3 separate regions of the Homo sapiens genome follow, and regions 1 and 2 are each linked to region 3. Evidence: fine-mapped expression QTL. A gene starts in region 3. Each other region holds a variant in brackets. All regions are shown on one strand. Distances are from middle to middle.

What was found. PIP is the estimated chance that this variant, and not a neighbour inherited with it, causes the effect.
Region 1: its variant is fine-mapped to the expression of GNPTG in whole blood (TOPMed, PIP 0.91).
Region 2: its variant is fine-mapped to the expression of GNPTG in whole blood (TOPMed, PIP above 0.99).

The regions. Positions count from the first base shown.
Region 1 is chr16:1,385,083-1,396,089 of GRCh38, reverse strand. UNKL (unk like zinc finger) reads left to right here. Exons shown (of 15, transcript NM_001372107.1): 7 at 1,875-1,959; 8 at 3,114-3,199; 9 at 5,396-5,458; 10 at 10,705-10,882. Among named protein-coding and RNA genes, the nearest start is that of UNKL-AS1, 18 kb to the left of the region's middle. The variant G/C (reference allele first, on the strand shown) is at 5,424.
Region 2 is chr16:1,327,065-1,334,654 of GRCh38, reverse strand. It overlaps BAIAP3 (BAI1 associated protein 3), which reads right to left and starts at 1,010. Exons shown (of 34, transcript NM_001199097.2): 1 at 906-1,010. It also overlaps the pseudogene RPS20P2. RefSeq lists silencers at 961-1,120, 1,856-2,056 and an enhancer at 2,833-2,882. The variant G/T (reference allele first, on the strand shown) is at 2,739.
Region 3 is chr16:1,348,125-1,354,833 of GRCh38, reverse strand. GNPTG (N-acetylglucosamine-1-phosphate transferase subunit gamma) reads right to left here and starts at 2,903. Exons shown (of 11, transcript NM_032520.5): 1 at 2,817-2,903; 2 at 2,675-2,732; 3 at 2,528-2,595. The coding sequence starts at 2,868. BAIAP3 (BAI1 associated protein 3) reads right to left here. Exons shown (of 34, transcript NM_001199097.2): 33 at 6,533-6,709; 34 at 5,395-6,455. The coding sequence ends at 6,352. TSR3 (TSR3 ribosome maturation factor) reads left to right here and starts at 2,956. Exons shown (of 6, transcript NM_001001410.3): 1 at 2,956-3,141; 2 at 3,236-3,455; 3 at 3,834-4,027; 4 at 4,600-4,776; 5 at 4,882-4,945; 6 at 5,226-5,594. The coding sequence starts at 3,030. The coding sequence ends at 5,397. RefSeq lists a silencer at 2,679-3,378.

The DNA of each region.
Region 1 (11,007 bases), 39 kb before region 3:
CGCGCCTATAGTCTCAGCTACTTGGAGGCTGAGGCGCGAGGATCACTTGAACCTGGGAGGCTGAGGTTGCAGTGAGCCAAGAGTGCGCCACTGCACTCCAGCCTGGGGGATAGAGCAAGACTCTATCTAAAAAAAGTAAAATCCTCAGCCAAGGGGGAGGCGTGCAGGGGCTGGGAAGGACCAGGCGCTGCTTCCCGTCGTTTCTTGACTCATGTTGTCACAGACGCGCATCATGCTTTCTGGGTGTCGGTGACCACACACTCAATGGTGTCACCAGGGGCCTGTCGGGAGTCCGGTGTCCGGGGCGTTTTCTGTGTTCAGTCACGCAGGCCTGGTTGCAGACCCCAGTCTCTGGTACCCAGCTGAGTGGAGCTGGCACCACGTGGGCCACAGCCGCACCATAAATCCTGAGGGAGATAAACCCTCCCGCCTGGGCCCCGCCCCAGGTAAACAAGGACTCTTCCGAGGCAGGAGGTTCCTGGGGCGGAAGGGGCAGCCTGAGATGGAGCCAGGCCTGTGCCTCCACTAGAAGGTGCAGGGTATGGACGGTACAGGGAGGCTGTGTTCACACCCAGCCGTGTAGTTGCCAAGGGACCATACTCAGATTTGTATTAAAAACAAACAGGCCAGGCACAGTGGCTCACGCCTGTAATCCCAGCACTTTGGGAGGCCGAGGCAGGCAGATCACCTGAGGTCAGGAGTTCGAGACCAGCCTGGCCAACATGGTGAACCCGTCTCTACTAAAAATACAAAAATTAGCCAGGTTTGGTGGCTCATGGCTGTAGTCACAGCTACTCAGGAGGCTGAGGCAGGAGAATTGCTTGAATCCAGGAGGCAGAGGTTGCAGTGGGCCAAGATGGCACCATTGTACTCCAGCCTGGGCGACAGAGCCAGACTCTGGCTCAAAAAAAAAAAAAAAAAAAATGAACAGACCGGGCACGGTGGTTCACGCCTGTAATCCCGGCACTTTGTGGGGCCGAGGTCAGGAGTTTGAGACCAGCCTGGCCAACATGGCGAAACCCCATCTCTACTAAAACTACAAAAATTAGCCAGGTGTGGTGGCACATGCTTGTAATCCCAGCTACTTGGGAGGCTGAGGCAAGAGAATCACTTGAACTCGGGAGGTGGACGTTGCAGTGAGCCGAGATCTTGCGACTGCACTCCAGCCTGGGTGACAGAGCGAGACTCTCTCTCAAAAAACAAACAAAATGAACAAGCAAACGGGACCCCACCGGGTGCCCGACGTGGTGGAAGGGCCATGGGGGGGTGGGGCCAGGCCGGAGGTCAGGAGAGAGGCTTCCTGCTGGGACCCAGGCAGGTGTGGGCACTGGAGGCCTGGCGTGCCAGGTGCCGTGTCCTTTACGGAGAGCTACGGAGCAGGAGGGGCTGGGCCAGGCCTCCCAAGGCCGACTGGGGGCTTCCAGGCTGGTCTGTCCCTTGCCGGGTCTTAAGTGTTGTTGACCTCATGAGAGGGGCTGTCACCCTAGGTGAAGGGTCAGTGGGTCTGATCAGGGAACAGACACACGTGTTCCTTTTAATAGGCACTTATTAGGCACCTGCTGCATACCAGACTCTGAATTTGGTGCATCTTTCAGAAAATATCAAGCGGGGAAATGACTTTGCCTGTGATGGGAGGGCAGATGCTGCGGGAATGGCCCCACATGTGTGCGTGTTCCCTGTGGGTCGGCTCTGCAGAGAGGAGGGATGTGGGGACCAAGGGCACACGTGGAGGAGGGCAGGGCCCACGCCCCCCTTTTCAGGGGTGTCTTGTTACGATTTGGAGCTTAATCCTCTCCCTTGGGATGATGCCAGCTGTGGTCTTTCCACAGAATCCCATTTCCAATCCAACCTCTTTATTTCACTTTTTTCCCCAGATCTACAAATCTACAAAATGCAACGACATGCGCCAAACCGGGTACTGCCCGCGCGGCCCCTTCTGTGCCTTTGCACACGTTGAGAGTGAGTAACCGTCCCTGTGGCAGGTTCACCTTAGCAGGTTCCGCGGCTCTGCAGGCCCTCACTGGAGTTACCGATGACCCGGAGCTGCCCACGAGGACCTGGAAGGCGGGCAGGAGCTCAGCACCGTGGTTGGGGGCTGGGGGTCCCTGACATGCCCGTGGAGGCTCCCTGGGGTGTTTGTGCCATGTGAGGCTGGGCTCCCTCCACGCCGGCGTGGGCCAGGCCTGGTGGAATCTGCAGGGACCCTGTCTTCAGGCACGCTGGGGCCCTGAGCCTGGAGGCTGAGTCCTGGTGTGGGCTGGCTGGCACCTCCACCTGCCTCCTGGGCATCCAAGCTGGGTCCTTCTGCCACCCACTGCCTGGGCCTTGCTCCGAGACTGCCATCTTGCCAGGCACCCACCCAGGAGCACCACCTCCCTTGTGGAGAGAGGGGGTCTGTCCGCCCCAGCTCGGGGAGACAGCAGAGACCCTCAAGCAGGGTTGCTCAGGGTGACCCTGTGCTTTCCAGAGCCCGTTTGCTGTCCAGGGGATGAGGGCTTAGCTTTGGCGATTATGTGGTCCCTAATAAGTTCCCAGCAGCAGAAACAAGCCCCAGTGGGAACCCACGCGGCCTCCTCCACGCTGCAGTGGGTTTCCTTCTGGCAGCCCTGGGGTTTGGGTTCAGTGGGAACCCACGCGGCCTCCTCCACGCTGCAGTGGGTTTCCTGGCAGCCCTGGGGTTTGGACTCAGTGGGAACCCATGCGGCCTCCTCCACGCTGCAGTGGGTTTCCTCCTCGCAGCCCTGGGGTTTGGGTTCAGTGGGAACCCACACGGCCTCCTCCTCCCAGCCCTAGGATTTGGGTTCCAGGTTTTGTGTGTGTGGTCACAAGCTCAAATTTTCCTTTGTTTTTTATTTTAGTGGGGAGGGCAGCTATTCTTGTTCACGTTTTAAACATTGCTTTTAGTGTTAAAAACATGAAAAACTGGTCTAAGACCAGAGGGTCCTGTTGCCCTGAGTGTCCCCACCACTGCCCAGCCGTCCTCTGCCGCACCCCTGAGGGATGATTGTGACGAGGCTGCGCACACTCGGCCCTGACGTGTGGTGCGGAGACTTCTGCGTGTCACTGTCGCCCACCAGCGGCCCTCAGAGTCTGCTGCTCCCCTGTCCTTGCAGAGAGCCTGGGGATGGTGAATGAATGGGGCTGTCACGACCTCCACCTCACGAGTCCTTCCTCCACGGGCAGCGGCCAGCCGGGAAATGTAAGTGAACGGCCTTCCCAGGACAATGCCCAGTGTCCTTTGGTTTAATTGAACTCTTAGGGATGTGGATGGATATGAGTTTTCAGCAATGTGGTCGTGGGCAGTCTGTGGAGTTCGTGGCTCTTCTAGAAGAGTCTAGAAAAATCCTTGCCACTAGGCTGGGGGCAGTGGCTCACGCCTGTCATCCCAGCACTTTGGGAGGCTGAGGCGGGTGGATCACCTGAGGTCAGGAGTTCAAGACCAGCCTGGCCAACATGGTGAAACTCCATCTCTACTAAAAATACAAAAATTAACCAGGTGTGGTGGTGGGTGCCTGTAATCCCAGCTACTCAGGAGGCTGAGGCGGGAGAATCACTTGAACCCAGGAGACGGAGGTTGTGGTGAGGTGAGGTCCCGTCATTTCACTTCAGTCTGGGTGACAGAATAAGACCCCATCTCAAACAAAAAAAGAGGGGGGAAGAGGGGGTTGGGCTTCTAGGAAGGTAAGGCTATGGGGGAGACTGGCGGAAGGTAAGAGCAACTTCAGTGAGGTTGGTTATGCAGCCTCAATCTGCAGTCTCTCCTCCTGGTGTGGAGAGGGGAGAGGACACCTTCACAGAGGGAATTCACGCCCGGCTTCGAGGCAGGAAGGAAGCAGAGAGCTGCTCCTGCATCTACTGTTTCTCAGCTGCCTTCAACTCAAAATAATCTTTTTGTCAAAGAGTGGCATGTTTTGGGGTGGCACACTCTGACTCCCTTCATATATTTCTTAACAGTTTCACCTGAGCCTCTGCCTTAGGTGAATGGCTCGGTTTGGGGTTTGATGCCATGGTTGGTTCAGGGAGTGCAGAGCTGGCACCCTGCCTTCACACGGACCAACCCAAGGTCAGAGAGCCACGTTCAAATGTAAGAAATGGAACTCAGGGCCGGGCGCGGTGGCTCACGCCTGTAATCCCAGCACTTTGGGAGGCCAAGGCGGGTGGATCACCTGAGGTCAGGAGTTCGAGACCGGCCTGATGAACATGGTGAAACCCCATCTCTACTAAAAATACACAAATTAGCCGGGCGTGGTGGCGTGCGCCTGTAATCCCAGCTACTCCAGAGGCTGAGGCAGGAGAATTGCTTGAACCCGGGAGGTGGAGCTTGCAGTGAGCTGAGATCGCGCCACTGCACTCCAGCCTGGATGACAGAGTGAGACTTTGTCTCAGAAAAAAAATGAAAAGAAAAGAAATGGAACTCAGGAGAACCGACAGGGAGCCAGCAGGTTCAGGCATCTCTTCTGTTTCATGAGACCTTCGAGATTTGGCATCTTTGGCCAGTTGCAGTGGCTCACGCCTGTAAACCAGGCACTTTGGGAGGCTGAGGTGGGACAATCGCTCGAGGTCAGGAGTTCGAGACCCGCCTAGGCAACATAACAAGACCCTGTCTCTACAGAAAGCTTTGAAAAATTAACTGGGTCCACTGGCAAATGCCTGTGCTCACAGCTTCTTGGGAGGCTGAGACAGGAGGATTGCTTTAGCCAGGGAGGTCATGCCACTGCACTCCAGCCTGGGAGACAGAGCGAGATCCTGTCTCAAAACAAAACAAAACCAAAAATAGCATTCGTCTAAATTCTGAGCAGAGCTTATGTGTGTGTGTGTGTGTGTGTGTGTGTGTGTGTGTGTGTGTGTGTATCTTTAAGGGACCAAGAGTACTGCTGAATAGGTACATATATATTGTGTGTGTGTGTGTGTGTGTGTGTGTGTGTGTGTATTTTTTTTTGGAGACAGAGTCTCACTCTATCACCCAGCCTGCAGTGCGGTGGTATGACCTTGGCTCACTGCAGCCTCCACCTCCTGGGTTCAAGCGATATCCTTTTTTAAATTTTTTATTCTATTTTTTGAGACGGAGTTTCACTCTTGTTGCCCAGGCTGGAGTGCAATGGTGCCATCTCGGCTCACTGCAACCTCCACCTCCTGGGTTCAAGCGATTTTCTTGCCTCAGCCTCTCGAGGAGCTGAAACTACAGGCATGTGCCACCACGCCTGGCTATTTTTTGTGTTTTTAGTAGAGACAGGTTTTCACCATGTTGGCCAGGCTGGTCTCGAACTCCTGAGCTCAGATGATCCGCCCGCCTCAGCCTCCCAAAGTGCTGCCACTGTGCCCAGCCTGAATTGTATGTTTTTAATTTACATTTCCTCCCTGCTTTTTCCACATATGACTGTTTTTTATGTTGCAGGCCAAGCGGAGAGACTCGCCGGCCGAGG[G/C]TGGCCCTAGGGGCAGCGAGCAAGACAGCAAGCAGGTACAGGCCCCCAAGGTTTCCCACCCTCGTGCCTGATGTCGCGTTAGGGCTGAGGCTTCCCGCCCTCGTGCCTGACCCGTGGCATCGCGTTAGGGCAGCGCTCATGCATCCTTGGTCCCGCCCACTCTCGGCTCGCAAAGCCATCTGGTTGACGTCCGCTTGTTGTAGAATTAGCTCTTTCCTGGTACCCCCGTGTTTGTCTGTTTGAAACGTTCGTGTTATACCTTGGAAACAAAGCCACAACATCGTGCTCGGGGAAATAAGAGGGGCCCTTTGGAGCCCATCTGTGTTACTTTTTTGGGCTGCGAGGGAAGGATGCAGATGGGGCCGTTCCAACAGCAGAACTTGCCGGGCACGGTGGCTCACACCTGTAATCTCAGCACTTTGAGAGGCCAAGGTGGGCGGATCACGAGGTCAGGAGTCCGGGACCAGCCTGGCCAACATGGTGAAACCCCATCTGTACTAAAAATACAAAATATTAGCCAGGCATGGTGGCACGTGCCTGTAGTCCCAGCTACTCGGGAAGCTGAGGCAGGAGAATTGCTTGAAGCCGGGAGGTGGAGATTGCAGTGAGCCGAGATCGTGCCACTGCACTGCATCCTGGGTGACACTGTGAGACTCTGTCTCTGAATGAATGAATGAATGAATGAATGAGGTAGTTTTAGTTGGGCACAGTAGCTCACACCTGTGGTTCCAGTACTTTGGGAGGCTGAGGCAAGAGAATTGCTGGAGCCCAGGAGGTGGAGGTTGCAGTGAGCCAAGCACTCCAGCCTGGGCGACAGAGTGAGGCCCTGTCTCAAACCAAACCAAAACCAATCCCCAAGCAGCAGCACTTGACTCTCTCAGTTCTGGGGGCTGAGTCCGAGCTTGAGCTGTCCAGAGCTGGCTCCTGAGGCCCCCCGGGTGCAGATGCTGCCTCCTCCGTGTCCTCTGGGGTCACCCCTCTGTGCGTGGGCATCCCTGGGGTCTCTTCCTGAGGACAGTGGCTGCGTAGGGCCCTGCCCCCACACCTCATTTCATTGTTGCTGTTGTGTTTTTACAGATTCTTAAATTTTTTGAGGCAGGGTCTGGCTGTGTCACCCAGGTGTAGTGCAGTGGCCAAGTCCCAGCTCACTGCAGCCCGGGACTCCCAGGCTTGAAGCAGTCCTCCCACTTCAGCCTTCTGAGTTGCTGGGACCCCAGGCATACACCACCAGGCTTGGCTAATTTTTGTATTTTTTTAGAAATGGGGTTGCCCAGCCTGTTCTCGAACTCCTAGGCTCAAGCAATCCTCCTGCTTTGACCTCCCAAAGTGTTGGGATTACAGGTGTGAGCCTCCACGCCTGGAGTAAGAACTCATTTCACCTTAATTACTCCTCACAGGCCCTATCTCCAAATTTAGTCACACCGGGGGTCAAGGCTTCCACGTAGGAATTTGGGGGGGACACGTTTGGTCCATAACAAAGACACTGTGCTGACTGAAATGAGCCAGTTACCGAAAGGCAAAACCTGCGTGATTCCACTCACAGGAGGTCTCTAGTGGAGTCACATTCACAGACAGCAGGTGGCATGGTGGGGGCCGGGGCCGGGGCCGGGGGAGGGGGCAAGTGTTCACGGGGTCAGAGCTTCCGGCTGGAAGATGAGGAGTTCTGGAGGTGGACGCGGTGATGGCTGCACAGCGGTGTGGATGGAATTCATGCCACGTACTACACCAAACCATGGCCACTGTAGCAAATTTTATATTATATTTCACTATAATACAGAGAAGAAAAACCAGGCAGGCAGTGCTGGTGGTAGCTTGGGGTGTGCTGTCCCCACGGGGCGAACGGTGCTGGTGTTAGCGGAGGTGCGGTGTCCTCATGGTGTGAACGGTGCTGGTGGTAGCGGAGGTGTGGCGTCCCCACGGGGAGAACGGTGCCGGTGTTAGTGAAGGTGCGGGATCCTCACGGAGCTCTCGTCTGACCCCTCTCACTGTGCCCATCCCTCATGTGGATGGACTCCCACACCAGGCCCGTCATCTGTGGCCATTGTGCCTTGGGGTACAAGGAGTGACATGGATGTTGATGATTTTCAGGTGATCGTTTGGGCTGAAGTCACAGTGTGCGCATCACCCTGGCCAGCTCCCGGGCAGGGTCAGCATGGGGTCTGGGGGGTCACTCAGGGCTGAGGCTTCCTCTCTGGTCCCTGTTGGTTTATGGCCTCCAGTAGGCTGGGGAAGGCCTCCGGGGTGGAGTCCCCTCCTGCAGACAGGCGGGAAGGAGGCGGCCTTGGCTTCTGAGGGTGCTGCATTCACCCTGGGCCGGGCAGCGCTTTGGGAGCCTGAGGCTGCCTGTCCCAGCCGAGGGTCAGCCCGTGCCCAGCCCTCAGATCAGTGCTGCTTTGGGGGCAAACGTGGCACCTGCACTGTGGTGCCTCCTGGCTTTCTGCATTCTTGGGCTCTATGCAGACACAGGTGCGGGGCACAGACTCCCTGTCCGACCCAGGGCGGGGCAGGCCTGCTCTGCAAACCCCAGCGTCGTCCACGGCTTCTTGGTGGGCCCGGGGCCCTTCCAGGCAACAGTCCCTCAGCTCTCCCTTACATGGGAGGTGGCCTCTGGGCCTGGGTGATGCTCTGGAGTTGGGTTCAGGCAAGGACTGAGACGCCCACAGGGGTCATGGAGCTGAGAGGACATCCACAGGGGTGACTGTGACCCGGGCGGTGGCCTCTAGGCTACTGGTGGGTCAGGACATGGGGAACCTCAGCCTGACTGAGCAGGGGCAGCTTGTGTGTAGGGACCGTGCCCCAGAGCACGGACCTGGGCAGACCCCGGGACACAGGGTGGGCTGCCAAGAGATGGGATGAGGCGGGGGTGGGGGAGGGCTTCCGCAGGCCGGGCAGCCGTGCGGCGGTGCAGTGTCCACGTCCCCGGAGGGCCGGGCAGCCGTGCGGCTGTGCAGTGTCCACGTCCCCGGAGGGCCGTGCGTTGCCATCCTGAGCTTTTGGTTCTGAGTGATAGCTGCTGGATGCGGTGAGCTCAGCAGACCGCCCCACGTCACTCACCCCTTGCTGGTGCCTGCCTCCTCAGCCCCACAGCCCAGGTGGCCCTGTCCTTTGCTGGTAGAGAAGGTCGGCTCCCTCCCCGATCCAAGCCATCGGGGTACAAGGAGCTCCCAGGTGTGCGTTGCTCCTGGATGTCTGGTCACCAGAACGTCTGTCAAGAGGTCCTTCTCAGCCTTCCTGGGGCCACACTGAGGGTCTGAAGCAGGGACAGGAAGTGCAAGGGATAGGGGGCGGGTTGCCACTGAGATGGCACCAGGTCTCGAATCACCCATAGTGTTTCTGGGCTGCTTGCTGGAGAACATGAGGCTTCCAGCAACCCTGTCACCAGGCTCACCATGGGGGATTGATAGGGGGTATTGGCAGCACCATGCATGGCTGGGAGTGTCCCCGGTGTTGCATGGCTGGGAGTGTCCCCGGTGTTGCATGGCTGGGAGGGTCCCCGGTGCTGCATGGCTGGGAGGGTCCCCGGTGCTGCATGGCTGGGAGGGTCCCCGGTGCTGCATTGCTGGGAGGGTCCCCGGTGCTGCATGGCTGGGAGGGTCTGCGGTGTAGGGTGCAGGAGTTACCGCCGTCCCTGATGCTCACGGGGTGGACTGTGGTCCGTTTTTTCATGGCTTGAGGAAAAGTGGTCTCTGGGCCAGGGAGAGGAAGTGGATTATGGACGAGGGGGCAGGCCCCTTCTCGCACCTGGGCAGGGAGCTCTGGTGGCTGTCTCCAGACTTTGCAGCTGGAGGGGACTGTTTTCAGAGTCAGTCACGGGGGGCTCTGTGCACCTCCTGGGCCGTGGGCTGAGGGGCAAATCTGGTATCCAGAAGGAAGCCAGGGCAGGCAGCAGGACCCTTAGGTCACAGAAGCCAGGAGCCAGGCGCGTTCTTGTCGGGGATTTCTGATCTTTAGGAAATGCACATTAAAATTTCTTCATTATGGACAGTTTTACTTAAGGAGACAAACTAGTAAAATCACACCTCCCAAGGTTAACTTTTTCTGCATTACTTTGCAGCAAAACCCAGATATCATACCATTTGAATTGTAATATTTCAGGATGCAATTCATTTTTTTTGGAAACAGAGTCTCTCTGTTGCCTGGGCTGCAGTGCATTGGTGCGATCTCGGCTCACCACAACCACTGCCTCCCGGATTCAAGCAATTCTCCTACCTCAGCCTCCCAAGTAGCTGGGATTACAGGCGCCCACCACCACGCCCGGCTAATTTTTTGTATTTTTAGTAGAGATGGGGTTTCTCCATGTTGGGCAGCCTGGTCTCGAACTCCTGATCTCAGGTGATCTGCCCACCTCGGCCTCCCAAAGTGCTGCGATTACAGGTGTGAGCCACCGCGCCCGGCCTTGGCTAATTTTTTTTGTATTTTTAGTAGAGACAGGGTTTCGCCATGTTGGCCAGGCTGGTCTCGAACTCCTGACCTCCAGTAATCTGCCCACCTTGGCCTCCCAAAGTGCTGGGATTACAGGCATGAGCCACTGTGCCCAGCCAGAAACTCATTCTAATCCAGCTTTTGATGCTTGGTTTTGCAGTGACCTCGTAGGTGGCTCTGGGTCTTTTGTGTCGGGTGTTTTCTTGTGAGCAGCACCCTCCCCGTTACTGGGTTTTTATTCAGCACTGCTCTGTGTGTTGCTCTTTTTCTTTTGATCTATTATCCACCAAATACAGATCATGTGAATTGCCCTGTGTTTTACTTTCCCTGGTGACGAGGTCACAGGACCACGCTATGGATGTTTTGGAAGTGGTGCTGGATCTCTTTTTAAGTCCCTGGGAGGACATTTCTCTGGGGGCCCCCCAAGGTGCTCAGGAGCCAGTCCTGGGCGAGAGCCGGGGCGGGGGCACCCAGGAGGTGTGGGGAGAAGGGCAGGCAGGCTGCACGGCTTGCCCCTCGGGCTGGCGGGCTCCTGGCCGCTGACACATCTTTCTGCACGTGCCAGATTGATTTTTACTGGCAAATGTCTACTCCTGAAACGTTTTCTGCAGAAAAGCTCACGAGACACTCCCCAGAGGTGTCTGTGCCTGTCCCAAGTGCACCGTAGCCCGCTGCCCTGCCGTCCTGGTGTTTCTCCTCGGTGCGGTCAGAGTCCCTCCGGGTCTGGGAAGCTCTCCCTGGGCCTCGCCAGGGCGTAGAAGTTGGCCGCCGTCCCGCGGTGCTTTCTGCAGGGTGCCGACGTGGCGCTGCCTCCTCCACGCAGGGGGTGCGCGCTCACGGTGTTTATGTCTTTGAACAGAACCACCTGGCCGTGTTTGCAGCGGTCCACCCGCCGGCCCCCAGCGTGAGCTCCAGCGTGGCGTCCAGCCTGGCGTCCAGCGCCGGCTCCGGCAGCTCCTCCCCCACTGCGCTGCCCGCGCCCCCCGCCCGTGCCCTCCCGCTCGGCCCCGCCAGCAGCACTGTGGAGGCCGTCCTCGGTAAGTCCAGCACCGTCCTCCTTTCTCCCTGACCTCCTTCTGTGTTCATGCTGTAGCTTTTCAGGGACAGCGCTTCTATTTCAGGACATGTTACAGAATCGTCATTTTTGTAGAGAAGCCAGACG
Region 2 (7,590 bases), 21 kb after region 3:
GAACCCCGGGAATCTGCATTCTAACAAGCGCTGCCGGTGGCCTTGGGCTCCCCGAAGCCTCAGACGGCTGCCAAGGTCCAGCCGCTGGCGCCCAGCAGGAGCGCAGGAGACCGGAGCCCGAGGCGCCTTCTTCCTCCCCTCGCCCGTGTCTGCGCAGCGCTCCCTCCTCCCTCTGCTCACCGACCCCCTCCCTGCCCCGCCTCGCGGCACCCCCTTTCCCGGGGCCCCGGGCGCCCGCAGGAGCCACACCCCCAGTTCTATGGGGGTCTCTCCCCTCGGAGGGGGCGGGCGGTCCGGGGTGAGTCTGGGGGCGGGTCTAGTGTGTCACTTTAAACTCCTCCCCCGGAGACCCCGGCCCAGGCAAGAGCCCACAGCCCTTTGCCGAGTGGGGCTGAAGGAGGGGCCGCTTTGCACTCGCAGGGATTTCGGGGGGACTAAAGGGCCTTACGAGGACCTGCGGGAGGAGGGAAGGGACGAGGACGCTGGGGGGTGCAGCCCGCCCGGGAGGGGTGCTGGGAGGCCCCGGGCCCGTCTGCTCCCCCGGGGAGGGAGGCGCGGGGGTCGAAGCCTCGCTTGGCGGCTCAAGTGCGGGGGAGGCCGTCGCCAGCGCCCGGATACCCTCCCCGTCCGCTCCGCAGTGCGGACCCCACCGCCGCACCCTCTCCTGCGCGTTCGGAGGGGAAATGCCCCCGAGACCCCGCCCCTCCAAGCATGCGCGGCCTCAGTTTCCCCAGGGCCGAGGGGACGTCGAGACCTTCCCACCGCCCCCCGCCTCGGAGGCCACCCCCGTGCCTCCTGGGGGACCCGGACCAAGGGGGCGGCGGCCGTCGGTCCGTCCGGGTTGGGGCGCGGGGCCGAGCCCAGACGGCGGCCCAACAGCACTGGCCGCAGCCCGCGGCACTTACCGTGGGCCGGCGCGGGGATGGGGGGGCTCCTGGGGCGCTGCGCTCGGCACCAGCTCGGGGACGCCGAGGCACAGCTACCGCTCCCAGCCGCGCGCGCCGACGACTGAGCAACTGCTGGGCGGACGCCGCTGCGGGGGCGGGGTCTGACTGGGGGCGGGGCCGGGCCTGACCGGGGCGGGGCCTGACCGCGCTCGCCCCGCCCCCCGCGTCCACGGCGCCTTAGGGGACCCGGCCGGGGTCTCCGTGCCTTGAGCCGGGCCGGAGCCCCCTCCCCCGGGATGCGGGGCTGTGAGTCAACCCACAGGTGGCTGCGGGACGGGGAGCGGGCTTGGCTGCCTCGGGACCCCGCCTGGCCGCGCGCGCCCTCCCCGTGGCGCGTGGGGTCTAGAAGGGGGTGGTCGGCGGGGTCTCCTCCGCGGACCCCAGGGAAGCCACGGTCACGAAGACCAGCAGCGGTGCAGACCTTTCTGGAAGGGCCTGACTCAGGGACACCTCGCGGGCCCCGCCGCTCTCTTCTCGGGGCGGGGATGCGTCCTGCAGGGATCCACTCGGGACGCCCCACGCCCACGCGGACGGTCTGTGGGGCGATCGTCCCTGGGGCTCTGGTGAGGGCCCAGTTGGCGCTTGTGGGGTCACAGCCGGCCAGAGCCCCCGGAGCCCCTGGGGTCTGCACTGGACCCCGCCAGCCCCTCCCGGGTGGCTCCCCGCTCTTCCTCCGCTGCGCTGTCCTGGAACCCCAGCGGGCCCGCGGTCTCCTGCAGGGTTTGTTAAGGCATTGATGGGTCCTGTCCCCAACCCGCTGGTCCCGAAGTCTGGGTGGGGGCGCGATCTGCGTTTTTTCCCTTTTTTTTTCAGACAGAGTCTCGAAAAAGCTCTCAAAAATAGCTCTCAACCAGGTTGGAGCGCAGTGGCACCATCTCCACTCGCTGCAACCTCGAACTCTCCGGCTCAAGTGGTCCTCCCGCTTCAGCCTCCCCAGTAGCTGGGACCACCCGCCGGCTAATGTTTTTTGGTTTCTTTTGTGGAGATGGGGGTCTCCCTATGTTGCCCAGGCTGGTCTCAAACTCCCAGGCTCAAGGGATCCCCCTTCCCCGGCCTCCTAAGGCGCTGAGATCACAGGTGTGGTCCCCACGCCAGCCAGCGCCTGCACTTCCCAGCTCCAGTCTGCTGCCGCCAGTCCAGGGACCACACTTTGAGAAGTCCGTGCTAAGCATGGTCCTGTCGGGGGCCTGAGGCTCTCAGACTTGCCGAGGGCGCAGCGGCCCCCCGGTCGCACCTGCCCTTGGTCGAATACAGCTGGACACTCGCAGCCCTTTGGGGACAAGGGGTGGGGGGTGGTCAGACTTTGGAGTTTTCACCCGAAGGGCACCTGGGCAGCCCAAGGCCAGACAGGCTTCCAGAACACAGCTCTTCAAAGGGAGGGGGCCCGTCTGCCAACAACTGTCTTGGCTTCTGGATCCCAACTCACTCAAATCCATGCCCGCCCCACACCTGTCTGTGCAGGATCGGGGGCAGGACCCCTGGGTGGGCTCTCCTTCGGGACGCTCGGCCCAGGCTCTGCCGGATCCTGACCCAGCACAGCCAGGCCGGTGGGGGAGGGCAGGGAGCTTGCAGGAAATGCAGGGACTGGCTGGGACAGGGACGCGGTGGGGGAAGCAGGGGAGGGGGCCTGGGCCCTCAGCCCCACTCTGTAGCAGTGTTCTCCTGAGGGGCTGGTGGGTCTGGAGACCGGGTCTGGGAGTGACGCCCCTGCCTCTGCGGTCTTGCACCAGGTTCTGCCCACCTGTTGGAACAAACACAGGCCGGTTGCCATGGTGATCACACTGGCTTTAA[G/T]TGAAGGGACAGGCTCTGCAGCTACGGTAAACAGGAAGTTGGGAGGGGCAGCCGCTGCTCCGGCCCCTACGAGAGCACCAACCCTGAAACCAACACTGCAGTCCGTTGGGTGCGGGAGCACCCTTGGAGACCTCTCCCCACTCTTTTCTAGGTAGGGAGACTGGAGTCCGGAGACGGGAAAGGGCTTTTCCAGGGCCACATAGTGATAGGTTGAGTCCCAAACCAGCCCTGGGCCTCCGTTTCCCCAGGAGAGGACGGTCACTAGGACTGTCCCCTCCACAAACATTTGGTGAGGAGTCGAGGAATGAACGATCCGAGCGACACCCCACTCAGTGACCAAGGCCTTCATTCTCCAACTTGTTCTGAGGCTGAAGACAGGCTGACCTGGATCAAAGTCCCAGCACCCTGCTCACCCCTGCCCCAGGGCGACCCTCCACTGCCCGGGCCTCAGTTTCCCTCTTCTGTAAAATGGGGACAACAGCAGCACCCACCTTGGGTGCAGCTGGGGGACCTCAGTGAGCCAGTCTCAACTCACAGCAGGTCAGCCTCAGTCCCAGTTGGTGGGGATGGGAACTGCAGCCACCCAGCCAGAACTCCGGCCCCTCCAGTGACCCAATTTACCTTTCCATAGCTTGGGGCTGGAAGCCCATCCTCGCGTGAGTCCCCTCCCACTAAGAGAGAGGGCAGGAGAGTGGGCCGCCCACCCTCCCCACCCTGAGCCCCAGGCCTCACTCTGAAGGGGCTACCCTGGCGTCTCTGCCTTCGGACCGGAGTGCAGACAGCTGCCGTGCTCCGGGGACAGTGAGGGGATGGCGCAGGTGCAGGAACACCTCCCACCGATGTGTCGGGACACGAGACCCCCTGCCCAGACGGGGTCAGAGCTTGAGGAGGCTGCTGGGGCACCAGGGCTGCTTGTGCAAAGCTGAGAAAAGCCATTTTTCAAGCCTGGCTCTTTTCACATTCTCAGGACTTTGTGCTGGAAAGGGTCTGGCAGGCAGGGAGAGTAGCTTTTCCTCCTTAGGGCCGGGCCGGTGGCGGGGGGCGGAGATGGGGGGGCAGGTAAAAACACCAGGCTCTGGATACGCAGGCGCCAAAGCCGCTGAAGCACACAGGTGAGGCCATGGCAGAGTTAGACAGCCCCTCCTGTTCCACGCTCATGAGCACAGCGCAGGGCCCAGTGCTACCACCCTCTGGTGGCAGCCCTAGAAATTGCAGGCACAGCCTCCCAGAATCTGCCCCCAACTTCCCTCTGAGGACCCAAGCAAGGAAGGGCAGGGTCCTTGGAGAGCTCGTGGGGTCAGAGCCCAGGGACTCTGGCCAGGGACCCTGCCTGCCCCGGAGCTGGAGGACCCTGAAGACTGCCAGAACCTGTTCCTTGCCCCATCAAGAGAGGGGCTCTGGGTGGGAGGGCCTCAGCCCAAGTCTGGCCTCATGCCTGAGATGCTGGTCTCCAGATCCCACACCAGAAGCTCCGGGAGTCCTGCTGCCACGCGTGCACAGGTGGGGCCGGCTGGAGGTGACCACCCAGTGTCACGCTGGAGTTCTCTCAGGCCTCCGTGCTAGTAGCAGCATCTGTGAGGGGTCCAGGGCAGGGCAGGGACAAAGAAGTGGGCCCAAGACAGGGTCCTACCAAGCCCCCAAACAAAGGCCATTGGTGTGCCAGAGCCCTGCAGGCAGGACAGCCCCTGCTGCGGTGAGGCTTGGATGGCAGGGAGGATGGCACCCTGTCCCCTGGCCCCGCCTCCCACCAGCCTGAGGGTGGGGGTGTCAGAGGCCCCTTCCCAGCGAGATGGGCTTCTGTGCTCACTGTGGTTAGGGGCCCAGCAGGGAGAGGCCAGGCCCTCAGTGTGCATCCTTCTGTGCAGAGCTGGGGTTGGGAGGCGACTCCTCCCAGCTCTGGGGGCTTCAGAGTCCCTCCTTTTCTTTTTTTTTTTTGAGATGGAGTCTTGCCCTGTTGCCCAGGCTGGAGAGCAGTGGTGTGATTTCGGCTGTAACCTCTGCCTCCTGGGTTCAAGTGATTCTCCTGCCTCAGCCTCCCGAGTAGCTGGGACTACAGGCGCCCGCCACCATGCCCAGCTGATTTTTGTATTTTTTTGTTTTTTTTTTTCAACTGGTAATCAATTTATTAAAATAGTTGACTTAAGCATCTGCAATGGTGACTTCCACTTCAACTCCTGGCTCAATACTGATGGAAGTAATCTGCTTAACAATCTCAGAAGGACTGTGCAAGTCAATGAGTTGCTTATGGATGCTCATCTGGAGTTTTTTTTTTTATAAGTTTTTTTTTGAGATGGAGTCTTGCTCCGTCGCCCAGACTGGACTGCAGTGGCGCGGTATTGGCTCACTGCAAGCTCTGCCTCCCAGGTTCACGCCATTCTCCTGCTTCAGCCTCCCAAGTAGCTGGGACTACAGGCACCTGCCACCATGCCCAGCTAATTTGTTTGTATTTTTAGTCGAGATGGGGTTTCACTGTTAGCCAGGATGGTCTCAATCTCCTGACCTCGTGATCTGCCCGCCTCGGCCTCCCAAAGTGCTGGGATTACCGGCGTGAGCTGTAACCTGGCCTCATCTGGAGTTTTTCTTGTAGTGATTCTCAAAGTGTTGGTAGGATTCAAACCGGTCCTTTCACTTTGAGATTCTTTTCCTTTGTGCCTCTGATCAAGTCAGCACACACCTTTTCAAGTGATTTTATGCTGTAGCTCGTTAGAGTGATTCAGATTTGGTGAATTTTGGTGAATTTGGTGAATTTGGCGAATTTGGTGAATTTTGGTGAATTTGGTGAATTTTGGTGAATTGCCATCTCCGGCTCCTTGGGTGTTTTTCTGGTATCCTTAAAAGCCAAAAGAATTTTTTAGGCCGGGCGTGGTGGCTCACACCTGTAATCCCAGCACTTTAGGAGGCCGAGGTGGGCGAATCACGAGGTCAGGAGTTCGAGACCAGCCTGGCCAACATAGTGAAACCTCGTCTCCACTAAAAATACAAAAATTAGCCAGGTGTGGTGGCGTGTGCCTGTAGTCCCAGGCACTCGGGAGGCTGAGGCAGAAGAATCGCTTGAACCCGGGAGGTGGAGGCCGCAGCGAGCCGAGATCGCCCCACCACACACCAGCCCGGGCGACAGTGTTAGACTTCGTCTCAAAAAATAAATAAATTTTTAAAAAATAATAATAAAGCCATAGCTGCTGCGTGGCTTCCTGACCAGCTTGTTCCTTGGCGAGAGCGGACAGTGGTGAGTCAGGAGCAGGAGCGTGCGGATCAGCGATTCACAGCACCTACCACCACGTCTTCCTCAAAGGGCTAATTTTTGTATTTTTAGTAGAGACAGGGTTTCACTATATTGGTCAGGCTGGTCTTGAACTCCTGACCTTGTGATCCATCCGCATCAGCCTCCCAAGGTGCTAGGATTACAGGCATGAGCCACCGCGCCCGGCCTAATTTTTGTATCTTTAATGGAGATGGGCATTTGCCATGTCGGCCAGGCTGGTCTTGAACTCCTGACCTCAGGTGATCCTCCCAACTCGGCCTCCCAAAGTGCTGAGATTACAGGCGTGAGCCACCGCGCCCGGCCTCAGAGTCCCTCCTTAAACGCACAGCCCAGGCTCGGGAGGCCGAGGCAGGAGAACTGCTTGAACCCGGGAGGCGGAGGTTGCAGTGAGCCGAGATCATGCCACTGCTCTCCAGCCTGGGCGAGAGAGTGAGACTCCATCTCTAAATAAATAAATAAGGCACAGCCCGCATCGAGGAGTGGGAACTTGCCTTATTCGGCGGAGGGCATCCTGGAGGAAGGGCAGAGGCCCAGGGAAGGAAGAGCCCAAGCCACACGTGCTCGGTGGTTTTCTTGTGCCTGTTCCTATTTCTTCCTAAGAGCCGGATAAGCCGATCTCCTGGCAGGTGCAGAAGCCTTTGGACCAGGCTGGGCCAGAGACAGGCAGGGTGGATGGGACCAGTTGCCCCAGCCCCTTCCCACCCAATGGGCCAAAGCCAGGAGCCCCCACCCCAACTGGGCCCAATGGCTTCCTCAGACCAGGTGGTGCCTGGGGATCTCAGGCTGTGTCTCCTGAGCAGGTGCTTCAGGACACTCCCAGACCCAGAATCAGGGTCGGCTGGGGATGGATCCCAAACCCAGCACTCCCAGGCCCCTCCCTGCTGGAGCTGGCTCAAACCAGCTCCAGCCAGTCCGAATCAGTGCAAGGCCCTCCAACCTGGCAACTTGTCGTCATGGTAATCATGAGGAAGGCTTCCCATCAGCGGATCCCAGTGAGTGATGGCGGGGCCAGGCCTCAGGTCCAGGAAGGTGAGGCGACCTGGGGACCAGCAGCCTGGCCAGGAGCCTGCATTCCTGCGGGCAGCGGCCAGCATGGTGGCCAAGTCTCCTAGCCTCCTCCGGCCCAGCCAGACCCAGGTCCCAAGGGACCTGAGAGACGGAGGGCACCTGTGGCTAGCCCGACTGCCAAAGCCAAGGGAGGTCTCCCCCGGCGCCAGCTCAGGCCTGGCTAGCCCGTCCCGCAGGGGGCTGGGGTCCCTGCACCTGTGCACCAGACTCCTACCTGGTGGCTCCAGCCAGCCCTGGATGGGCCCTGTGAGGAGAGCTCTCTGGACACCTGGGGTCCCTGCTCCCCAAGGAGGTCCCCTGCCAGGGACAGCAAGAGCAGCCTTGAGTCCCAGGGAGGAGACCCGTAGAGCAGGCCAGGGAGGTGCAGGTGAAGAGACCCCGAGGCTGGCTAGAGGGGATGTCACCCGGAGGGGCTGACGTGGGGCTGGAAGCAGGACCAGAACAAAGCCCTGGGGGGTAGGGCTGGGCCTTGGGGTCGGGGGACGCCCTGTGGCCCCAGTGGGCTCCCACCCCCAAAGCCCA
Region 3 (6,709 bases):
GCAGGAAAAAATGGTCTGGAGAAAAACACCATCAACAAAACAAAAAGATCAGGAAACTGGGAAACAAATGTGCCACTTACATCCAAAGGTGGGAAGAGAACTGTTCCAAATTAAAACACTAAAGACACATAATGAACCAAATGCACATGTGAACCTGACTGGCCCTGATGTGGGGATGGGGGTGGGAAAACTAGAAGAGGTATTCTTTTCTAAATTTTTATGGGTTTTTTTTTTTTTTTTTTTTTTTTGAGACGAAGTCTTGCTCTGTCACCCAGGCTGGAGTGCAGGGGCATGATCTCAGCTCACCGCAGCCTCCGCCTCCTGGATTCAAGCAATTCTCCAGCCTCGGCCTCCCAAGCAGCTGGGATTACAGGAGGATACCACTATGCCCGGCTAACTTTTGTTTTTGTGGTTTTTTTTAGTAGAGACGGGGTTTCACCATGTTGGCCAGGCTGGTCTCGAACTCCTGACCTCAAGCGATCGTCACACCTCAGGCTCCCGAGCAACATGCACGCACCACCACGACCAGCATATTCTGTTTTCTTTCCAGGACTCTCACCTCCAAAAAGACGTGGTCCCATTAGCCAAGGCTGCCTCTCTCCTACTGGAAGGGGTTCGGTCGGGAACTGCGCTGTTACACAGTGGCCTGCCTCCTCCCCAGCTTCTTGGGATAGGTGGTGGCCCGACTCCAGCACTTCAGGCCCTGGGAAGCCACCATCCCATGGCTTCTGAGCCGCAGGGAAGTGAGCCTAACCCCAGGTGCGCCATCACGCCCAGCCACACAACAAAAAACTTAAAAAGATGTGTTTGGAGTCAAAGTCCACCAAACCTACCAACACGGTGCGGCACCATCTGATCCCCTTTATCTCTGATCTGTGGCTACCCCAGCTGAATCCCCTCTGGCCCTGGCTGTCCTGCTCAAGGCCTTTGGCCACTCCCTTTCCTGGATCCCTTTCCCCAAATAGCCACAGCTTTACTCCCTTTTCTCCTTTAGCTTTTGGCTGAAATGTCACTTCTTAGACTTTTCCTCAGCACCCTATTTAAAGCAATCCCCACCAAGACAGGAGGATTGCTTGACGCTGGGAGTTTGGGGCCAGCCTGGGCAACATAGTGAGACTTCCATCTCTACAAGAACACTTAACATTTGCCGGGCATGGTGGCGTGCACCTGTAGTCCCAGCTACTCAGGAAGCTGAGGTTGGTGGATTGCTTCAGCCCAGGAGTTCAAGGATGCAGTGAGCTATGATTGCACTACTGCACTCCAGCCCGAGTGAGAGAGCAAGACCCCGTCTCTAAAAAATAAAAAAAGCGATCCCCCAAACAATACTCTAACACACATACACACACTCCCTCCTCTGCTTCACACATCTACATGGCATTTTTCATCATTGGCCATTCTATGTATTTTATCTAATTCTACAGGCTCAGTGCCTGTTCCTCCATCCCTCCCCATTAGACTGTCAGCTCCATGAGGACAAGCATTGGTATATCTGTGTTCGTTTCTGCAACCCCAGCACAGACCCTAACACATAAAGGTATTCGATAATAAAATTACTAAAGCTGGGCGCGGTGGCTCACGCCTATAATCCCAGCACTTTTGGAGGCCGAGATGGGCGGATCACTTGAGGTCAGGAGTTCGAGACCCGCCTGGTCAATACGGTGAAATAAACCCTATCTCTACTAAAAATACAAAAATTTGCTGGGCGTGATGGTGATGCATGCCTGTGATCCCAGCTACTCGGGAGGCTGAGGCATGAGGATCGCTTGAACCTGGGAGGCGGAGGTTGCAGTGAGCCGAGATCGTGCCACTGCACTCCAGCCTGGGCGACAGAGCGAGACTCTTGTCTCAAAAAAAAAAAAAAAAAAATTCTTGGATTTTTGTCTATTATATTTAATACTCATTCAGCGTTTAAATGATATATATACTCATGACCCACCAATTCCACTTCTGGAATCCTGCACTGGGAAACCGCTCACCTGAGGGCAAACCAAAGCACCTACACAGCATGTTCTCCACAGAACTATTTCTAATGGCCAAAAAAATGGCAAGAACCTAAATACAATCGGGGAGTGCAGTGCCATCCTATCGCGTGCTGAGCACCAAGAGAAAGAACGAAGACCTATATCATCACCATGAAGCGTCCCGAGAGATACAGCGAGTGACAACGACAAATCAGCCAAATACTCGCGCAGCATGATTTTTTAAAAAAGCGATTAGATTACAAAAACTATACGTTTTCCAGTTGCATAGACACGCACGTAAAAGCACAGAAACGCGTCTGCAAAGTCACCAGACTATTAACAGCAGTTACCTCTCGGAAAGGAAAGGAAGGACTAAGTCTGGAGATAATTTAATTCGCTACAAGAACGTTCTGGTATATTCTCTCGTACTTCCACATTAATTTTAGAAGGCTGACAAACCAATGCTTTAGACTCCGGGCCGTAACTCTCAGGGTCACTCATCCATCCTCCACTGTTGCTGCTCCCCGCGGCCACCCCCGCGCCGGCCAACAGCGCTCCTCACTCACCAGACACGGGTGAAGGATCCCTCTTGGCCTGGAGGCGACTGGCCTGAGGCAAGAACGGGTTGTTCACCCTACGGGAAGCGGCAAGGTCAGCGGGGAACGGGCCCGGGCCGTCCCCCGCTCGAGCCGCCAGCCCGCGAGGCTGCTCACCCAAACGCGTTGGGCTCCTCCACCACCTTCATCTTCGCTGCACCTGCCGGCGCGGGCCCTACGGGGAGCGAGACCGTGAGCGGGGAGGCCGGGGTGCAGAGCGCGCGCGGGGCCTGGGGACGCGGACGGCCGGGCCACTCACCGCCGGCCGAGAGCCCGAGGAGCAACAGGAGCCGCGCCAGCCCCGCCGCCATCGCGCCGCAGCGGCCGCCGCGCGGTCACGTGAAGTGACGGTCACGTGACCACGGGGACCGGAAGTGGCGTCCGGCGCAAGCGCTGGCAGCCGCACAGCCCATTGGGAGGCCGAGGGGCGCGGCCGTGGGGTGGGGAGTCCCCGGCACCCCAGGTCCGCGCCATGGGCCGCAGGAGGGCAGCGCGCGGGCCGGGGGCGGAAGGCGGCCGCCCTCGGCACCTCCCGACGCGCTCCCTGGAGGCCTTCGCCGAGGAGGTCGGCGCCGCGCTGCAGGGTGAGCGAGGCGTGATGGGGAGAGCGGGTCAGGGTTTGAGGGCCTGCCCGGGGGTCCCACGCTGAGGCCGAGTGCCCTTCTCTCTCTCGTGCAGCTTCCGTGGAGCCAGGGGCGGCTGACGGCGAGGGCGGCCCGGGCCCGGCGGCGCTGCCCTGCACGCTGGCCATGTGGGAGTTGGGCCACTGCGACCCCCGGCGCTGCACGGGCCGCAAGCTGGCCCGCCTGGGGCTGGTGCGCTGCCTGCGCCTGGGCCACAGATTCGGCGGTCTGGTGCTGAGCCCCGTGGGCAAGCAGTACGCGTCCCCCGCAGACAGGTAGGCGCGGGAGGCCTGCCCGAGGTCGTCTTCATTTCCAGCGCGTGGTTCCCTTCAGGGATGGTTTAGTGGCACTTGTATGTCGCACCCACATCCACACCCACGTGGGCAGGGAACGTCTGTCTAGTTTGCCTCCGTTGCGTAGCGCAGAGCCTGGGATAAAGGAGGTTTTGGGGTAATAAACGTTTGTTGAGTGAATAAACACATGCTCCAGGTGCCCCAAGCAGCTGCCTCAAAAGCTTGCTCGTGAAGTCCGTTTGAGGGTGTTTGGGGATGGCGGAATGATGTCCCTGAATCCCTTAGCTAGGCCATTCTCCGGGGCATGCTCCACCTTGGGTAGTGCTGGCTCCTGAACTTATCCCATGCTGTCCCTGGCAGACAGCTGGTGGCGCAGTCTGGGGTCGCCGTCATCGACTGCTCCTGGGCCAGGCTGGACGAGACACCGTTTGGGAAGATGCGAGGGAGCCACTTGCGCCTGTTGCCCTACCTGGTGGCCGCCAACCCCGTGAACTATGGCCGGCCCTACAGACTTTCCTGCGTGGAAGCGTTTGCTGCCACCTTCTGCATCGTAGGTGAGTCCAGGGGCCCCACAGCAGTGTGACCCGGCGGCCTGCTGTTCCTGCTATGCTCCCAGCATCATGTTTCCTGCCGACAGACCCCAGGAGGAGCATAAGGGACGGACAGGGGAACAGTTCAGACAGACCACGGTTCCAGCCCCAACTGTCACTTCAGGTTTTCGGCCTGTGGAGTTGCAGTAGAGGCAGAATGGGATCGCTGTTCTATCAGGGCCGGTGTGTGGGGTGCCATTCATTATCAGGGCACCACTGCCCAGAGAATCCTCCTTATCCTCCACGTCCTCCTTACTGAATTGCTGATCTAAAGAGGCCCTGATGAGGCGTGGGGCAGTCTTGGTGGGAATGTTTGTTTCGCAGCAAAGGAGGGGGACTTGGTCGGTTGCAGAGGTGTGGACTGTAGCAAGGGAGGTGCAGGCTGGGGGCAGCACGGGTTCTCAGGACTGTGAGCTGATGTTTGCTGGGGACCCTGCGGTTACTTGGGAGAGCGCCGCCATCCGGCAGCAGGGTGATCAGGAGGCACTTGAGGGGACCGTCGACTTCTTTGGGTTTCCTGTTTCTCACACCGTCAGGCTTTCCAGACCTTGCTGTCATTTTGCTGCGGAAGTTTAAATGGGGCAAGGGCTTCTTGGACCTGAACCGCCAGCTCCTGGACAAGTACGCGGCCTGCGGCAGCCCGGAGGAGGTGCTGCAGGCGGAGCAGGAGTTCTTGGCCAATGCCAAGGAGAGCCCCCAGGAGGAGGAGATCGGTGAGCCTTGGCGGGGTGGGAACCAAGGCCCTCCAAAGCCTGGGGGGTGGGAGGCCTGGTCCTGCTCTGAGCTCACTTAGAGGCCACTTTCCTCTCTCGGCTCAGATCCCTTCGATGTGGATTCAGGGAGAGAGTTTGGAAACCCCAACAGGCCTGTGGCCAGCACCCGGTAGGTCCTTGGGCTTAATTTCATGATCACTCAGACCCAGGGCTCTCTTCTACCTCTGGCCTGAGCCCTTCCTGCTGCCTGGGGGTGGTGTTGTAAACAACACCCCGATGGTCTTCTGACTAGAAAACCTGCAGTGCATGTCCCACTGGAGAGGTTTGGGTGTGGAGAGCACAGGGAGGAAGAGGAATCTGTCCTCGGCTGGGGGCTTTTTGTGGATGACGTTGACTCCAGCTAGCCAGGGAGGACGTCATTTGGGAACGTGCTCCCCCTCCTCTCCCAGGCTGCCCTCGGACACTGATGACAGTGATGCGTCTGAGGACCCAGGGCCTGGCGCCGAGCGCGGAGGAGCCAGCAGCAGCTGCTGTGAAGAGGAGCAGACGCAGGGACGGGGGGCTGAGGCCAGGGCCCCGGCTGAGGTTTGGAAAGGAATCAAGAAACGGCAGAGAGACTGAGGGTTGCAGACACATATATTTTTGAGGCTGGGTGACGAGAAAATCTAGAGACATGAGGGACATAAATGGGCCTGGCAGCCTCGGCTCTTTGCGGCTGCTGGCAGGACTGAGCTGTCCGGGTTCTCCCCACACTTCCAGCACAGCTGTGCTCTGTGTCCTGCCTCGGCGCTCTCGCAAATGAAGCTGCAGGCCAAGAAGCCCCTTGTGAGTCTGTTTTTCACACTGGGCCTGGGGAAGGGTTGGGGCGAACTCTCGGCTCTGCCTGGAAGGGTCGTGGAGCAGGTCTCAGGTGGCCACGGATATGTGCGTGAAGGACAGCTGACCAGTTGGCACGGAGCCCTTCACACTGACCACCAGCCTTGGGTGACGTCCCTGGCCTCAGAGTGACCTCAGGGGAACCTTTCCCCGGCCTGGGAGCCCCGTGGGGACTGGAGACCTATGCGGTTCTTGACTCACCTGCCCTTTGCATCCCCTCTGTGGGTGGAGGCTCTGGACCATCCACCCAGTGGTGCCAGTGGCACCCTTTTCACTCCCCAGCTGTGATTACCAAAAATGCGTCTGCACATTGCCCGTTGTGCAGAGAGCACAGCCACTCACTGAGTCCCTGGAGACCAGCTGCCCACCGCCCACCCAGGGCCGGGGAGCCCAAGGAAGCGGGCAGGGAGGCCCACCAGGTGGTCAAGCCCGCTCTGGCCTGCACTGTGTCCTGGGCAGCTGCTGGCCAAGTCCTGCCAAGTTGGCCACCCAGATGTGGGGTTGGGTGCAGGGGTTCACAGCACACACCAGACAGACACGGCCAGGGCGGTAGGCGCCGCGGGGCCAGCCACGACACACACGTCACAGCACAGGAGGGGCGCCGTGGGCCCTGGTTGCACAAAGCTGGCCACAGTGAGCTGGAGGATGCTTCAGGGAACTTGGGGTGGGGGCCAGGGCCGGGGCTGGCAGCTGATGGACTCAGGGGTCCGCCTCCATGCACTTCTCCAGCTCCTTGAGTTTCTTCACGAACTCCTGCGCCTCCTTGCTGGTGCGGCCTTCCAGCCTCCTCAGCGCAGATCTCACTGCAAGCAGCGCGGGCAGGTGTGTGGGGGCCGGGGTCAGGCCCGCTGCCCCTGCCTCCACCCAGATGCTCACTCACCCTGGGCTCTGGGCCGGCACAGGTGCAGGGTGACAGGCTGCCCAGCCCTTGCACCCCCGCCCACCTGGGGCCGGGCGACACCAGTGACGCCACCTAGGCCGAGGGCCGCCTCCCCAGCGAAGTCGTTGGTGGACAGCCAGTCGTGGTCCATGACGGTGAACAACACACAGGCCGCGC